Linked DNA regions of Homo sapiens: region 2 is linked to region 1. Evidence: fine-mapped expression QTL. A gene starts in region 1. The other region holds a variant in brackets. All regions are shown on one strand. Distances are from middle to middle. Region 1 holds the start of CCDC71 (coiled-coil domain containing 71). Region 2 overlaps TRAIP (TRAF interacting protein).

Evidence for each region. PIP is the estimated chance that this variant, and not a neighbour inherited with it, causes the effect.
Region 2: its variant is the best candidate, but not a certain one, in a credible set for the expression of CCDC71 in whole blood (TOPMed, PIP 0.74).

Annotation. Positions count from the first base shown.
Region 1 is chr3:49,164,556-49,168,940 of GRCh38, forward strand. CCDC71 (coiled-coil domain containing 71) reads right to left here and starts at 1,776. Exons shown (of 2, transcript NM_022903.4): 1 at 1,712-1,776. RefSeq lists silencers at 1,538-1,597, 1,618-1,697 and enhancers at 1,848-1,917, 1,938-2,057.
Region 2 is chr3:49,847,882-49,852,266 of GRCh38, forward strand. It overlaps TRAIP (TRAF interacting protein), which reads right to left. Exons shown (of 15, transcript NM_005879.3): 2 at 262-319. Among named protein-coding and RNA genes, the nearest start is that of TRAIP, 6.5 kb to the right of the region's middle. The variant T/C (reference allele first, on the strand shown) is at 2,050.

The sequences.
Region 1 (4,385 bases):
TTTTCTGAAGCCAGAAACCTAGAATTACTCAGCTCTGGGAATACAGGCAATATCCCTGTCCTCAAGGAACCTAGGTTAGAAGGCCAGAAAAAGACACTGTTAAGATTCTTGGGAGTGAATGCTGGCATTCAGCTCAGTTTGCCAATGGGTCAGGAAAGGATTCCTGGGAGAGACAACACCTAGCTAGGATATGAGTGATGAATGAAAAATGATTAGATGGAAATGGAACAAAAAGGGGAATAGCTAATGCAATGGCTCCAAAGTGAGAAAGGGTTAAGGCATACTTGGTGTGGGATCTGGGATCTAGGTGAAAAAACAGGCGAGGATAGAGCAACAAAGAACCCTGAATGTTAGCCAAAGGGCCCAGACTTACACCCACTGTCCATGCCCATCTGTTTCTCCAGCTGCTGCTGTTCATGTGTGGAGCTGGAGTGGGGTGGGGGAATCTCCCTGCCCACCAGAAGTTCTGTTTTCAGTCTCTAGACAGGGTACTCAGCAACCCATTTTCTAGCTCCAGAGGCATGGAGACCTAATCAAGAGTCGGACTTTTCTTCAACAGAAACTAAAAAGCTGATGAGTAGCAGGTGCCAATGACATCTCTCTAGGCAACCAGGCAGACCAGGGACCAGGAAGCCAGACCAAGATCCCAAAGTTTAAGGACAATGGGAGCCAAAGGCTGCAAGTAGGATGGTGAGTCAAGGGGACATTAGCGGTATGCACTGTCCTACCTAAGACTTGGAGGGCCACAGACCTCAGTACAGCCCAGATGGAGGTGACTGAGAACACCTAACTACTCCCAGACTTCTTTAAAGAAGCTGTGGACATCAATCATAACTAACATCTAATACCCAACCCAACACTGAGGGTTCCCAGAAGCAAGAGGCAGCTCCCCAGCTGCACCAGAGCATTAAAAGATCAGCCAGGATCAGGCAGGTCCCTCGGGCCATGAGGCCCGTCTGTGTAGTTTCTTCCCACCGCTCTAATGCAGCAGATGAAGTCTTCAGAATACCCTGGAGGAAATGCCCTAGGGCTCTTTGTTTGGAAACATTCTTGGATCCTCAGGTGTCTTGGGCACTTCCCCTCCCCAGAGACCGTTCTCCAAGCACAATCCTTGCACATGACTTTAGTTCTTTATTAATGTTTTTTGAAGGGATGTAGTTCCCAGAGCTGTGAACTGTAGAAGAGAGAGGGACCTATTTCCCACCCTCACACGCGCCCCAGCGCAAATATTTGGGGTGACCTGGGGGCTCTTCCACCCAGGTTAGGCTGGGCTCTTGGGAGGGGTTTTCTGGGCTTTCGAGAAGCTTCGGAAACAGAGGCTCCTGCCCGGCCTCCGACTTCCCTTCACACGTGCCCCCGGGGAAGGCAGGAGAAGTTGACGGAAGATAGGGCGTGAGAGAGGCGCCACACAGGCAGACCGGGGGAGGGGGCAGATCGGGGCCCTCAGGCTGGGAATGCACGTCCTTAGGGCCCAAGCCGTGAGGCGGGGGTCACTGAGGCAGCGAAATGTACAGGGTGAACGGTGCTAGCCCTACCGGGACCGCACAGCCCCAGGGTGGGGTCGCTGGGCGCGGGGTGGGGGTGGGGTGGGGGGTCTCGGCCAGGCCGGCGGAGGACGCGGGTCCGGGAAGAGTTGGCCGCTTGCCCGTCCGCCCTGCCGCCTCGCGGGCCGCCCCTCCGCGGCGCGGCTAGGCCCGCGGCTCCAACCTACCGGCGCCGCCGCGGGGACCCAAGACGCGCCTCTGCGCCGCCTCCGCTGCTCCAACATGGCCGCCCGCTGCGCGCCGGAAGTGCACTGCGCTTCCGCTTCCGGGACCCAGCCCGCCCTACCGACCCTTGACCCCTGAGACCCCATTTCCCCACAAAGTCTGGGGGCGGAGCAGATTGGGTACCAAGGAGGACTGCCTGGAGGTGGTGGCCGCGGTGACTGCTCCAAACCCGTTCGGCCCTGTGCAGAAGTCTGAAGAACAGAGGTGCCCTCTGACGCGGCCCCAGGCAAGGACTCACTAGAGCCCGGCCAAGACTGGATTAGGGGTCATCTGACACCTTTTCTGAGGGGAGCTAGTGGTGCATTGACATCTGGGAGGGGCTCCTGACAAGGTTCAGGCCATCTTCCACCCTCTGATCTATCTTTAGCCACTGACAATGCCCACTTCAGTCCCAGACACCTGACCAGAGGGTGAAAGAGGAGTGCCTCCTGACAGGGAGTCTCAGGTGATCTCCTTTGTTTTGCAGTAAGGGTATCTTCTCCGAGGACAGCAGGCCTTCCTCTCTTCCTGAGAATAGGGCCTGTGGCACATGGCATGAAAGGCTGGTGTGCACGTGATCACAAGTGGTGCACGCAAGCCCAAGCGCACATGGAGTCTGGGGGCTCCAGTATACCACTGTGGGCCTGAGTATACTTGCTCAGGCAGGTGGGGGCAGGTATAGTCACTGGCCCAGCCTCAGCCCCTCAATGGAAGGAAGTCCTGCTTCCAGTCTTAACACTGCCCAGAACCCCTTTCCTTTTGCCTAGGAGTCTGGGACCTCAGTCTTTTTATCCATGCTCTTGGGCTAGTACGGGGTGGTGGTTATAGGACACAGGTCAAAATCAACCCTAGGGGTCTGTGACTTCAGTGAGAGGTCAGAGTGGTCTCCACAGCTCTGACCAAAGGTCCCATTAGTCAGAGGTTTGCAAGTCCAGGTTGGGAACCATCCTGGGAGCCCTGGTTTCATGGATGAGGTAGTGGGGGCATTTGCACTAGGGTCAGAGCCTGAGCCAGGAGGCAGAAATATTGCCACAACTCTTGGACTCTGACCCTTGCAGTGGTGCCTTATTTGGTAGTTGGGGTCAGGTGGAAGCCTATTGGCAATCACAGGAGGGTGGCGGGATGCTTCATTTAGGGACTGGGTACTAGCCCTTTTTCCTGCCCTTTTTCCAACCAGGATCCTCTGGTTGCTCTGTATTTTCCCTGCTTATACAGAGGGGTCCAGGCACTCCTAAAGACAAGTGCCTAGTCCACCCAGCAGTGCCATAGGCCTCATCTGGTGCCTCTTAGCTTCCCAGGGCCTCAGCACTAATGGTGAGGTCCTCGCTGCTTTTAAGTATAGCCAAGGTATCTAGCAGGAACTGCAAAATCTCCTGTTCCTCTGGGGTCAGTGCTTCTAGCCTTTTTTTCCTGGTGGAGAGAAAGCAAGAGTAGGGTCCCAGGGGCCAGGATCTCATGGGGTGCAGTCAGGAAGCCCCACCTTGGTGCCCCCAGTCCCCAGCTGTGGGTGAGTCCAGTCTCTGGCCGTCCATGGTTGAAGATTGACTGTTCACTTATTCAGGACCGATTCAACCAGTTACCTTCTGCAGCTTCTCCAAAGCCGGCAGTGTTGGCCTCCTGTGTGCAGGTGGGCCATGGCTGTGCAAACAGAAACCCCTTCCATGGAGAGCCAGAGCCCATCCTCCAGGGATAGCAACAGTACAGTTATATCCAGACCCCTCTCTGGTGATGTTCAGCTCAGAAGTTAGGGCAAATGGAAAACCAGGAAGGGTAGGTCCATCCTCCGGCTGTGCTGTGTCCCTTCCAGACATGAGAACTGGGGAAATGATAGAGATTAGGGATAAGGATCATGGGGGTACCTAGCTCCCTTTGGGGGTGGTAGGGCCGAACTTTTTGCCTCCTGGTGCCCAGTATGCCCTAGATGGAACTCTTTGGGAGCGCTCATCAGAGTGCAGTCTGACTTGACCTGGACTCTAGTGGCTGCTGAGCCTACAGGCACAACTGGGACCAGACAGGATGAGATGGGAGAGAACACAGGGTGATCCCAGGACCCAATCTTTGCTTTCCATTTGGCATCTTATATGGTTCTTTTTTTCCTTCTTCTTCCTTTTTTTTTTTTTTTTTTTTTTTTTTGAGACAGTCTCCTTTGTTGCCCAGGCTGGAGTGCAGTGGCGTGATCTCAGCTCACTGCAACCTCTGCCTCCCAGGTTCAAGCAATTCTCCTACCTCAGCCTCCAGAGTAGCTGGGACTACAGGCGCCTGCCATCACACCTGGCTAATTTTTGTATTTTTAGTAGAGGTGGGGTTTCACCATGTTGGCCAGGCTGGTCTCAAGCTCCTGACCTCAAATGATCCACCCACCTTGGCCTCCCAAAGTGCTGGGATTACAGGCGTGAGCCACTGTGCCTGGCCAATTTTTTGTATTTTTAGTCAAGCTGGGGTTTCACCATGTTGGCCAGGCTGGTCTTGAACTCCTGACCTCAGGTGATCTGCCCACCTCAGCCTCCCAAAGTGCTAGTATTACACGTGTGAGCCACCTGCCCCTCCAGCCTTATATGGTTCTCAGTGGATCCTGGACCCAGCTCTATCTGAGCAGAGAGATGTGATGGAGCTTTAGATGTGAATGAAGGCAGTGGC
Region 2 (4,385 bases), 680 kb after region 1:
CACTGATGAAAAGACAGGGAAGGAGGCCAGCCAAATCTACCCAAGTGAAAACTGGCCCAGGCAACAAGTCCATCTGCCAGCTACCTGTGGGTGTAAGCAGACCTCCCAAACACTCAAGGGCACAAGTGAGGCTCAACTGGCCTTAAACCAGGAGGGTCCAAAAAAGGTCAGAGATATTGCAGTTTCAGAGCTCTTTTCACATTCCTGCTCTCTGCTAAGGAGATCTCTTCAGTTGAGGTGGTCCCACCCCAATACTCTCACCTGGATTCGGCACTGTGGGCAGGTCCGACTTGGTGCTGTCTCAAACCACTGAATTAGGCTGGAATGAAAAGCAGAACAATAGACTGATGAGCCCTGGTTTGTCTGGGGACATAAGCCAGGCAAACATTCTGACCACGAAAGGGTCTGTTCTGCTCCTCCTTGACCCAATGCCTGCCCAAATAAGAGGACAGTAGCATAGGCAGTTACAGCACCTCCCGCAAGGCCTGATGGGTACTCAGGACTCCAACCAGCTGGCCCTTTTTTTGGCCCTGTTGGCTTGGCCAAAAGCTGTCCTTTAGGCAACATTCTGGGCTTTGACTGGGGTTGGGAGAGATGATAGTCGAAGCTCAGGGGCCCTCAGAGATGAGGACTCTGATAACACCCCCATTTTAAGCTGGAATCCCAAAGACTACACTTTCAAGGTAAGGATCAACCAGAAATAAAAGTAAGTAAGGGTACAAAAATAAAGTTAGATATAAGGAATAAAATCTAGTATTTGATAGCACAACAGAGTGACTACAGTCAACAATAATCTACTGTACATTTTAAAGTAACTAAAAGAATAGGAATGTTTGTAACACAAAAAAATGATAAATGCTTGAGGTGATGGCTACTCTGTTTACCCTGAAGTGATTATTACAGTGTATCCCTGCATCAAAATATCTCATAAACCCAATAAATATGTATACCTACTATGTACTCATAACTTTTTTTTTTTTTTTGAGGTGGAGTCTTGCTCTGTCGCCCAGGCTGGAGTGCAGTGGCACGATCTTGGTTCACTGCAAACTCCGCCTCCTTGGTTCAAACGATTCTCCTACCTCAGCCTCCCAGGTAGCTGGGATTACAGGCATGCGCGACCACGCCCAGCTAATTTTTGTTTTTAGTAGAGACAGGGTTTCACCATGTTGGCCAGGCTGGTCTTGAACTCCTGACCTCAAGTGATCCACCTGCCTCAGCCTCCCAAAGTGCTGGGATTACAGGTATGAGCCACCATACCCAGCCATAAAATTTTTTTAAATTAAATTTTTTGTTTTTTTGTTTTTTACAGAATAGAGGCAGGGTCTCACTGTGCTGCCCAAGCTGGTCTCAACTCCTGAGCTTAAGTGCTCCTCCCACCTCAGCCTCCCAAAGTGCTGGAACTATTGGTATAAGCCACTGTGCCCAATCAAAAAAATTTTTTTAATTAAAAAAAAAAAAGAGTGGCCGGGCGCAGTGGCTCACGCCTGTAATCCCAGCACTTTGGGAGGCCGAGGCGGGCAGATCACAAGGTCAGGAGATTGAGACCATCCTGACTAACATGGTGAAACTCCATCTCTACTAAAAATACAAAACATTAGCCGGACGTGGTGGCAGGCACCTGTAGTCCCAGCTACTCGGGAGGCTGAGGCAGGAGAATGGTGTGAACCTGGGAGGCGGAGATTGCAGTGAGCTGAGATTGTGCCACTACACTCCAGCCTGGGCGACAGAGCGAGACTCCATCTCAAAAAAAAAAGTAAGTAGTGGTAAAAGCAAAACACAGCTGAGCTTTGCATCATCTATGCAGGTGGTCCAGCAAAGCTCAAGCCTTAAACTTTAATTAGTCTCCTACTAGTAGACTCCCCTACTCCTAGGGACCAGGGAGAAACTAAGTCCTCTCTGGAAAATGATACCATCATCCTGGCCTCAAAGATTCCTATAAGTACATTTTCTTTTCTTTTCTTTTTTTTTTTTTTTTTTTTTTTTGAGATGGGGTCTCAATCTGTCACCCAGGCTGGAGCGCAGTGGTGTGATCTTGGCTTACTGCAACCT[T/C]CGCCTCCCAGGCTCGAGCAATCCTCCCACCTCAGCCTCCCGAGTAGCTGGGACCACAGGCGTGCACCACCATGCCCAGCTAAAATTCCCATAAGTTTTCAAATACCATGTACAACATATAATCAAGAGTAACCAGGCGCAGTGGAATACTACACAGCAAGAATAAATGAGTCTACAGCTAAGAACAATATTATGAATAAATCACAAAAACATAACACTGAGGAAGAGAAGCCAGATACAAAAAGTTATATTTTGTATGATTCTATTTACACAGTTTAAAAGTAGGCAGGCCAGGCCCAGTGGCTCACGTCTGTAATCCCAGCACTTTGGGAGGTCGAGGCGGGTGGATCATCAGGTCAGAAGTTTGAGACCAGCCTGACCAACATGGTGAAACCCCGTCTCTACTAAAAATAGAAAAATTAGCCGGGTGTGGTGGCGCACGCCTGTAATCCCAGCTACTTGGGAGACTAAGGCAGAAGAATCGTTTGAACCTGGGAGGTGGAGGTTGCAGTGAGCCGAGATCACGCCACTGCACTCCAGCGTGAGGGACATAGTGAGACTCTGTCTCAAAAAAAAAAAAAGTAGGCAAAATTCATCTATGCTCTCAAAGTCAAGACAGTAGCTATCTTAATATGGGGAGGTGGAGGGAGGTGTTGGTAGGGGTTGGAAGAGCATATAAGGAGGTTTCTAGAAGGTTTCTAGAGCTGATAATAGTCTGCATTTTTTTTTTTTTTTTTTTTTTGAGACAGAGTCTTGCTCTGTCAGCCAGGCTGGAGTTCAGTGGCACGATCTCGGCTCACTGCAACCTCCACCTCCCAGGTTCAAGCAATTCTCCTGCCTCAGCCTCCCGAGTAGCTGGGGTTACGGGTGCACGCCACCATGCCCAGCTCATTTTTATATTTTTTTAGTAGAGACAGGGTTTCACCATGTTGGCCAGGCTGCTCTCAAACTCCTGATCCACCCGCCTCGGACTCCCAAAATGCTGGGATTACAGGCATGAGCCACCATGCCCGGCCAATAGCCTGCGTTTTCCTGTTTTCTTTTTTTTTTTTGGTGGGGGGACTTTCGAGACAGGGTCTCACTCTGTCACCCAGGCTGGAATGCAGTAAAGCAATCATGGCTCACAGCTGACTCTACCTCCCAGGCTCAGGTGATGATCACCTCAGCATCCTGGGTAGCTGGGACCACAGGCACATGCCACTATGCTCGGCTAATTTTCTGTGTTTTTAGTAGAGATTTCATCATGTTGCTCAGGCTGTTCTAGAACTTCTGGGCTCAAGCAATCTGCCTACCTCAGCCTCCCAAAGTGCTGGGATCACAGGCGTGAATCAACACGCCCAGCCATACCCTGTTTCTTGATCTGAATTCTGGCTGCATAGATATGTTCAATTTGTAAACATTCTGTAAGCCATATACTTAGAATATGTGTACTTTTCTGAACTATATTATACTTCAATTTTAAAATGTTCTTTTTTTGAAATGGGGTCTCACTCTGTCATCCAGGCTGGAGTGCAGCAGCACAATCATGAGTCACTGCAGCCTCAACCTCCCAGGCTCAAGCGATCCTCCTGCCTCAGCCTTGCAAGTAGTTGGGACTGCAGGCACAGGCCATCATGCCCAGGTAATTTATATTTTTTTCACTTTTTTGTAGAGATGGGGTGTCACTGTGTTGCCCAGACTGGTCTTGGACCCCTGGGCTCAAGCAATCCAGCCACCTCCCAAAGTGCTGGGATTAAAGGGGTGAGCCATCATGCCTAGCCAAAAAAACACTTTTTTTTTTTTTTAAGACTGAGTCTCGCTCTGTCACCCAGGCGGGAGTGCAGTGGTGCAATCTCGGCTCACTGCAACCTCCACCTCCTGAGTTCAAGCGATTCTCCTGCCTCAGCCTTCCAAGTAGCTGGGACTAGAGGCGCCCGCCACCATGCCCGGCTAATTTTTTTGTATTTTTAGTAAAGACGGGGTTTCACCATGTTAGCCAGGATGGTCTCGATCTCCTGACCTCGTGATCCACCAGCCTCGGCCTCCCAAAGTGCTGGGATTACAGTTGTGAGCCACCGCGCCCAGCCAAAAAAACATTTTTTTAAGTAAACAGGTACACAAGAAAAAAAAGCACTATGAAAACAAACCAGAAGAAATGCCCACAAAGACTTTAGGTAGGCCAGGTGCAGTGGCTCACGCCTGTAATCCCAGCACTTTGGGAGGCCGAGGCGGGCAGATCACGAGGTCAGGAGTTCAAGACCAGCCTGGCCAACATGGTGAAACCCCGTCTCTACTAAAAATACAAAAATTAGCCAGGCACGGTGGCGAGCGCCTGTAATCCCAGCTACTCGGGAGGT